Linked DNA regions of Homo sapiens: region 2 is linked to region 1. Evidence: fine-mapped expression QTL. A gene starts in region 1. The other region holds a variant in brackets. All regions are shown on one strand. Distances are between the middles of the regions. Region 1 holds the start of PRRG4 (proline rich and Gla domain 4). Region 2 has its middle 19 kb from the start of QSER1.

Region 1 (4,397 bases):
ATCTCTCCCTCTCTCTCTAGCTAGCCTATCCAGTTGCTAGAATTCTGTCATCAGAGTTTCACGCCTTTGGGTTAATGGATTGTTCTAGCTCAACACACACAAACACAGCTGTATTAATCATTAATAAAGTCAGTTAGGAGTACTAGTGTAACAGATCCTTCCCAAATGAAAATGAGCTGAGAATCGGATCTGATGAGAAGGGATAAGAGACAGGAATGTGTGGGGACGTGGATCCAGAGTACTGACACTGAGTGGGGAAGCACCATGAATAGTCAGGGAGAAGGATGCTGAGAGACAGAGGCTTTTTTTTTCTTCTGGTTTTACTAGGTTAGGCTTTTAAGATATAGGCAGGAAACAAACTGTTAATGATCTGAAACCTAAAAACTGTGGACTTCCAGGTTAGCAAGCCCCAAACCTAATCTTTTCTCAACTAGCTGCTTTTATCTAGACAACTAGACCATCTGAAGTCAAAAAGGACCTCAGAGATCATTTTACGCCCCACCCGCATCACTTTTACAGATGAAGACATTCAAGCCAAACGGGATTAAGTTATCTCGCCCAGGGTCTCGCAAGTCCAGACTAGATCCTGGACTCCCCGTTCGCCTCTCCAGGAAGAACAAGTAATTATGCTTATTATAATCGCCACACAGCTTCATCTAGAGAAATGTCACTCACTGATTTTCAGAAGCTGAAATAGGTTTTCCATTCAATTAACCACAAACTAGGTCTTACGTATATACTTATTAAAGGAGACTCACAGACATCAAATTCTATAAATTGCAGTTAAAGAACATAAAAAAACACAACCTTGCCAAATATGCCACAAATTAAACTAAAGGATATTTTAGTGTTTCTATGATTGCTGGGGGTATGTAATTTCAAATACTGCACTTTCTCACTGAGATCTGTGCTATGCGGCTCTGGGTTCCAGGGACGTTTTAGTGCTTACCTTCTTCTCCCGCATGCTTAGAAGCCTTTGGACCTCTTGCGCAATGAGGAAACCCCAGGGTAACTGTGGGCAGTTGGCTGAGTAGAACCAGAAGCGTAAACATAGTCTGGCAACTGTCAAACAAACTAAAACAAACAAAAAAAAATATTAAAAAAAAAAGGCCCCTAGCTCAGCACTTTGAGTTTCTGTCGAACTGAATCACCAACCTGTTGTACTCAAAGCCTAGGCGCAAGAGCGCCCGGCGCGCGGTTTCGGTCGCCGGAACCCGACGCGCGCCCAGGAAGCAGCCCCTGAGAGCGCCTGGGACAAACGCCGTGCCCAGTGACCCTGCCGAGGGCTGATCGGGCACCTGTCGCCGCGGGCAACCCTCGCTATGTGTTCGAATCCAACCCAGTCCGCCGAGGTGGCCCCTTCCAGGTAACCCCCTCCCCGCCGAGGTCCTGCCGCCAGGCCTCGTACCTGTGTCCCCCCGCACATGTTCCAGCAGCCCCCGGGCCAGAGGCTCTTCTTGGGGCGGTTCCTTCGGCCGCCAGGCCCTCGGTCTCCGGCGCCCTCAAACCTCGGCGACGCTCCGGGCCTCGCTCTCCGCAGGGTCTGGATGGCCCCCGCGCGCAAACCTGGGAAGGGCCTGGGGTTCGCAGAGGGGCGCCCGGGGAACACGCGCGGGGTGAGGTCCTGCCTCGGTCCGGGGAGGCGGCCGACGGAGGACGGGAGGAGGCGGCTACCTGGGGACACCTGGCCGCGCCCCACCTCCCGGGGGCCGGGCCTACCTGCGGCGAGCGGGCGGGCAGTGGGCCGGCGTCTCCCGGGAGCCCGCGCTGCGCTCTCAGCCGCCCCAGCTTCTGCCCCATCCCCGGGCGGGCCAGCCGCCTGCCGCCAGTTCTGGCCCCGCCTTGGCGGCGCGGGTGGCTGCTTTTCGATTTGTGTCTGCACTCGGCGTTCTCAATGATCCTAATTCAGGAAGCATTTCGGTTCTCAGTCTTAAGCAGAGCGCCCTCGGCGCGTCCAGGGCTTTTCGCTTTGGGTCCCACTGGGCCAGGAGTCCTGTGGTTACCTTAGGTCAACTGTTCTCAAAAGGGTGGTCCGGGGACGAGGACAAGATATTCATCAGACAAAATACCCTTTATTCGTGATAAGAAATGGAAATGACCTTACAAGTAATTGATTACATTGGTTCTCCAATGGTGGTCCGCCAGGTCTGGGATGTCTCCAAGATCTTTTCCAGGGGTCTCTGAGGGCAAAACTATTTCCATTATAGTAACAATAAATGATTTGCCATTTTCACTTTCATTCTCTCAAGAGTGTACAGTGGAAATTTCCAGGGGCTATTTGAAGTGTAATAACGTCATCATTCTGTCTCCTAATAGAATACCTGAGTGAGCGTGCTTGTATTTTCTGGTATTTTCCATAGTAGTATGTTTACATTATCAGTATGTACATTTTATAGAGATTTATGTAGATTTATAGAGATTAATAAAATTTGTTCTCAGTACTTGTGAACTTAATTTTTTTTCTTTCCTTTTTTCTTTTTCAGAGTAGGGGGTCTCACTTTGTTGCCCAGGAACTCCTGGGCTCAAGAGATCCTCCTGTCTCATCCTCCAGAGTAGCTGGGACTACAGGTGTCCACCAACTCTCTTGGCTACTGCTTTTGTACTTTGATTAGTTCTATTTGTTCATATCTACTAGGATAGCTATAACCTCATTTTTCTGAAGTAATTATCTTGAAATCTTGATCTTTTCCTTGAGTCTATGCATAAACATAACAAAAAGTAAGCTTTGTTGTCTTGATTTCAAATAATATTTTGAAAATTTCTCAGTTTTAATGTTAGATAATAAATATCATTAGATAAAATTCACATAAGTGAAAGCTCTTTGGGGTCCTTGATAATGTAAAAGAGCGTAAAAAGGTCTTGATTAAAGACTTCAAAAACTGCTGCATCAAGTAATGAAGGCAGCAGGTGGACAGAGTACCTATGCCAGGTGATGGTCACATCCTTCTTTATCCAAAGAACGTGCTTAACAGTTCTTTGAAACACTATTTATGCTTTGGTCGAAGTGGTCTGGCACTTGCTGGGGACCAAGGGAAACATTTTTTCCCCCTTCATTTTTTTTTTTTTTTTCTTGAGACAGAGTCTTGCTCTGTCACCCAGGCTGGAGTACAGTGGCACAATCTTGGCTTACTGTAACCTTCGCCTCCTGGGTTCAAGCGATTCTCCTGCCTCAGCCTTCCGAGTAGCTGGGATTACAGGCATCCACCACCACGCCCGGCTAATTTTTTGTACATTTAGGAGAGAGGGGTTTTCACCATGTTGGCCAGGTTGTTCTCAAACTCCTGACCTCAGGTGATCCACCTACCTCGGCCTCCCAAAGTGCTGGGATTACAGGCATGAGCCACTGTGCCCGGCCTCAAATTTTTGACTAATTCAATTTTTACCAAATTCTGTTTTTCTCCTCCCAAAGGATATTGTCTATTTTATTATTATTATTGATAATCAACTGAATTATTCCTAAGTTTTCTGCAGAAATTTTGTTTTCACTGATTCCTTCTAGGCAGTGCTTTTCCTTTCCCTTCTTCCAATCCCTTCCTCTTCACTTTCCATTTGTCTACCTCGTGGTCTAAACTATTTCTATGATGGATTCTTCTTTCCCTCTTATTCAAGCAATTGGGATCAGACTATGAAGAGGCCAGACATGGTTTATTGTGGTTGAACACAAGAATAGGAAACATTTTCACTAGAACACCCATTTTCCTGTTTATTCATTGAGTCAACCTACAGCACTGAGACCTCCTGGTGGGGAGATGGACACCACAGCTTCTGTTGTGGAGGAGAACTTAATCTGACTGAGACCTATATCTGAGAATGTGGGCCTGTAAAGTTCTTATCAAGTGCAAGAACTGACTTATTCATTTTTGCATTCTCGACAGTACCCAGGGGAGTGCTTTCTACATTGTTCGTGCTGAATACATTTTCATGGAGTGGAAGCAATTTATCTTCAGGTAGGAAAAGTGCTTCATTTCCCACTACTTTGGGGAGAGGCCAATGGTCAAATGCCTCATGCTATGGAATCAGCAGTTGTGAACTTTGATGACATTCCTTGGTAAAATGAGTCTGCCCACATATCTGGATATTTGGACCAAAACAAATGAGGCCTTGTGCTGACATCAAATATCAGAGTTTATAGACAGAGAGGGAGGCAGACAGAGAAATGAAGTCTGTTTCTCAGTAGTGAATTACATCCCTGTGTGTTTCCCTGTAACATTGAGTCCTAGAGAATGTTACAGCATTTGGCAGCATGCACACAAACTTCAGTCACTACGGAGCTGCAAGATATTTTGAGGTTAGATGGCAAAGAGAGAAATGAGAAAAGCCAGTAACAACAATGCCCAAGAGAGCTGATTTCTTCTATTATTTCCTTGCTGTATTAATTTTATTTTGTGCCATCTGCT
Region 2 (4,397 bases), 44 kb before region 1:
GGTAAAAATATCTGCCTCAGAGGGATGTTGAAAGAATTAAATAACTTAAAATATGCTTAGAACAGTGTGTGGTACATAGTTTCTTTCTTTTTTTCTTTGTAACTATTTATTTTGACATAAAGAAGGTTAAAGAATAGTACAAAGAACTCCCTTATATCCGTTATTAACATTCCCTAAATATCAATATTTATATTAGCTATCAATCACTCTCTGTCTTACCATTCTATTCAACATTGTACTGGAGGTCTAGCCAGAGCAATAAGGTGAGAAAAATAAATAAAGTACATATAGGACAAAAATTAAAAAGTAAAACACTTTTTATTTGTGAATGTCATAAAAATCTGAAGGAATCTAAATTTGAAAAGTATAACTGATTGTCTTAGTTCATTTTGTGCTGCTATAACAAAATATCTAAGGCTGAGTAATTTAAAATAAACAGAAATTTATTGAGTCATGGTTCTGGAGACTGGGAAGTCCAAGATTGAGGGGCTGGCATCTTGTGAAGGCCTTCTTGCTGCATCATCTCAGGGCAGAAGGCAAAAAGACAAGAGAGAGAGAGAAAGGAGAGAGAGAGAGAGAAGGGGTTCAAACTTGAACCTGCCATTTTATAACAAACCCATTCTGAAATAATGAACTTGCTTCTGCGATGATGGCCTTAATCCATTCATAGGGTTAGAGCCTCATGGCTTAATCACCTCTCATTAGGCTCCACTTCTCAATAACGTTACATTGAGGATTAAGTTTCCAACATATGCTTTTTGGAGAATACGTTAAAAACATAGTATTCTATCCTTGGCCCCCCAAATTCACATCCTTCTCACAAGCAAAATATATTAATTTTATCCTAATAACACCAAGTCTTTTTTTTTTTTTTTTTTTTTGAGACGGAGTCTGGCTCTGTCGCCCAGGCTGGAGTGCAGTGGCACAATCTCGGCTCACTGCAAGCTTCGACTCCCGGGTTCACGCCATTCTCCTGCCTCAGCCTCCTGAGTAGCTGGGATTACAGGTGCCCACCACCACGCCTGGCTAATTTTTTGTATTTTTTAGTAGAGACAGGGTTTCACCGTGTTAGCCAGGATGGTCTCGATCTCCTGACCTCGTGATCCACCTGCCTCAGCCTCCCAAAGTGCTGGGATTACAGGCGTGAGCCACTGCGCCCGGCCAACACCAAGTCTTAACTCATTCCTGCACCAGTTCAAAAGTCCAAAGTCCAGAGTCTCATCTATATTAGATATGGGAGAGACTTATGGCACAATTCATTCTGAGGCATACTTCTTCCAGCCTTGAGCCTGTGAAACCAAACATGTTCCACTATGCACTGTCCTAATGGGGACTCTGTGATGCCTCCAGGATACTCTCTGCTGTGGCTCTGACCCTGCACCACATTTCTGCCTGGGACCCCAGGCTGTCCGAGATATTCCTTGAAATCTAGGTGAGGGCTGCCATGGCCCATAGCTTGCACCCTCTTGGCATCTGCAGAGTTGGCACACATGTGAACACTGCCAAGATTTAGAGCTTGTGCCCTCTGGAGCAGCATCACATGCTGCACCTGGCCACACTTGAGCCAGGGCTGGGGTGGCCAAGCAGTGCTGTGCTGGAATGCAGGGAGCAGAGACTTGAGGGAATGCAGGTAGTAAATGCTGATTATCTGCTGGTGCTTCTCTGGAAAGCTCACCCTCAATACCCTGCTCTTGCCTGTGATGGGAGGGGCAGCCCCATTCTCCCATTGTCTTTGTGGGATAAATAGCATCTGACTCCCCTCCATCCCTACTAATCCCTTTAGTAAACAGTTGCTTTGCCACACCCTTGGTTTGCTCTTCTAAACATGACTTTTCACTCTTTACATGGCCAGGCTGGACATTTTCCAAGTCTTTCTATTCTGCTTCCCTTTTAAATGATAAATGCCATCTTTAA[A/G]TCATGCGTGTCCACTCTAAATTTACCACATATAGTTAAGAGAAGCCACGCAGCTTCATAATGCTTTGCTTCTTAGATTTTACTTCAGCCAGATGTCCTAGTTCATGGTTCTTAAGTTCTGTCTTCCATAAAGCCCTTGAGCATGGACACAATTCAGCTAACTTGTGTGCCACTTTATAACAAGGATGACCCATTTTCCAGTTTCCAATACCTTGCTCCTCATTTTCATCTGAGACTCATCAGAATAGTCTTCACTGTCCACATTTCCACCAACATTCTGGTCACGACCATTTAAGCAGTCTCTAAGAAATTTCAGACTTTCCTAACAGCTATCTCTTCTTCTGAGCCTTAATGCTCTGTACAGGTTTTTTTTTTTTTCTAGGCTTCTCCTCCAAATTCTTCAGCTTCTACCCATTACCCACTTCCAAAGTCACTTCCACATTTTCAGGTATTTGTTATAACAATACCCCACTTCTCCGGTACCAATTTTCTATTTTTGCTTTTTTGTGCTACTGTAACAGGATGCCCAAGAACAGAGATTTATTTGGCTCATGGTTCTGGTGGCTGGGAAGTCCAAGACTGAGAGGCTGGCAAGGGACTGCTTGCTGTGTGATCTCATGGCAGAAGGTAAGAGGGCAAGAAAGAGAATTTTACAATGAACCCACTTCTACAATAATGAACTCACTTCCACAATAACATCACTAATTTATTCATGAGGGTGGAGCCCTCAAGGCCTAATTGCCTGTCATTAGTTCTTACTTGCCAACACTCCTGCATTGGGGATTAAGTTTTCAATACATGCTTTTGGGGGAACACATGCAAACCATAGCACTAAAAGTTGAATTTAGCAAGATCGTAGGATACAAGTTCAATAACCAAATATTAATTATATTTTTATATACTAACAATAAGCAATTGGAAAATAAATTTTTTTAAAATCAAGGTATAATTCGTGTACCATAAAACTCACCATTTAAAAGTATACAATACAGTATTTGTTGCTTTTTGTTTTTGAGATGGAGTCTCCCTCTGTTGCCCAGGATGGAGCGCAGTGGCACAATCACGGCTCACTGCAACCTCCGCCTCCTGGGTTCAAGCGATTCTCCTGCCTCAGCCTCCCGAGTAGCTGGGACTACAGGCATGCCCCATCACGCCGGGCTAGTTTTTTTGTACTTTTAGTAGAGACGGGGTTTCACCACATTGGCCAGGCTGGTCTTGAACTTCTGACCTCGTGATCTGCCCATCTCAGCCTCCCAAAGTGCTGGGATTACAGGCATGAACCATTGTGCCCGTCCAGTGGTTTTTAATATGTACTTAAAATTGTGTAAACATCACCAGTATCTAATTCTAGAGCATTTACATCACCCTGAAAAAAAACCTCTTATCTATTGGCACTTGCTCATCATTTCCCATTCCGCACAGTTCCTGTCAATGGCTAATCTACTTTCCATTTTTATGGATTTGCTTATTCCGACATTTCATATAAATGGAATCACCCGATATATGTGGGCTTTTGTGTCTGGCTTCTTTCACTTACTGAAATGCTTTCAAGGTTTACCAATGTTGTAGCATGTGTCAGTACTTCATTCCTTTTTCTAACTGAATAATATCCCCTTGTATGTATATACTACTTTTTGTTTATTCACTCATAGGTTGATGAACATTTGGGAGTTTCCACTTTTTGGTTATTACGCATAATGCTGCTATAAACAATTTTTTATGTGAACATACGTTTTCAATTCTCTTGAAAACATAATTGGAATTCTCTTGGAAAGAAAGTTGGAAAATTAAATTTTAAAGATGTCATCTAGAACAGTGTAAAAAGACATTAAGTACTTAAGGATGAATTTAACAAAATAGACGTAACTCCTATATACCGAAACCTATAAACATTGCTGAGATAAATTTAAAAGATCTTAATACATGAGAAAACATACTATGGGCTGGGCACAGTGGATCACACCTGTAATCCCAGGATTTTGGGAGGCTGAGGCAGGCAGATCATTTGAGGTCAGGAGTTCGAGACCAGCCTGGCCAACATGGTGAAACCCTGTCTCTACAAAAAGTACAAAAATTATCTGGGCATGGTGGCATGCACTTGTAATTCCAGCTGCTCAGGAGGCTGAGGCAGGAGAATCACTTGAACCTGGGAGGCAGATGTTGTAGTGAGCTGAGATCGCACCGCTGCACTCCAGCCTGGGCAACAGAGCAAGACTTTGTCTAAAAAAACAAACAAACAAACAAAAAAACTATGGATTGTTTAATACATGTAAGTTTTTCTATAAATTAAATGCAATTCTAGTCAAATTTTCAGCAGTCTTTTGATTTAGAAATTGACTAGCTAATTCCAAAATGTATGCAATGTTAAATGTATTAAATAGCCAAAAATTTTTTGGGAAAGAACAAAGTTTGAGAACTTAGACTACTTCTTTTGAAGACTTATGACAAGGCTACAGTCATCAAGATAATATGATATTGATATA

Evidence for each region. PIP is the estimated chance that this variant, and not a neighbour inherited with it, causes the effect.
Region 2: its variant is the best candidate, but not a certain one, in a credible set for the expression of PRRG4 in whole blood (INTERVAL, PIP 0.50).

Annotation. Positions count from the first base shown.
Region 1 is chr11:32,827,185-32,831,581 of GRCh38, reverse strand. PRRG4 (proline rich and Gla domain 4) reads right to left here and starts at 1,655. Exons shown (of 6, transcript NM_024081.6): 1 at 1,409-1,655; 2 at 950-1,074. The coding sequence starts at 1,052. It also overlaps a transcript of CCDC73 not described here. RefSeq lists enhancers at 959-1,018, 1,029-1,078 and a silencer at 1,499-1,878.
Region 2 is chr11:32,871,636-32,876,032 of GRCh38, reverse strand. No RefSeq gene overlaps it. Among named protein-coding and RNA genes, the nearest start is that of QSER1, 19 kb to the left of the region's middle. The variant A/G (reference allele first, on the strand shown) is at 1,915.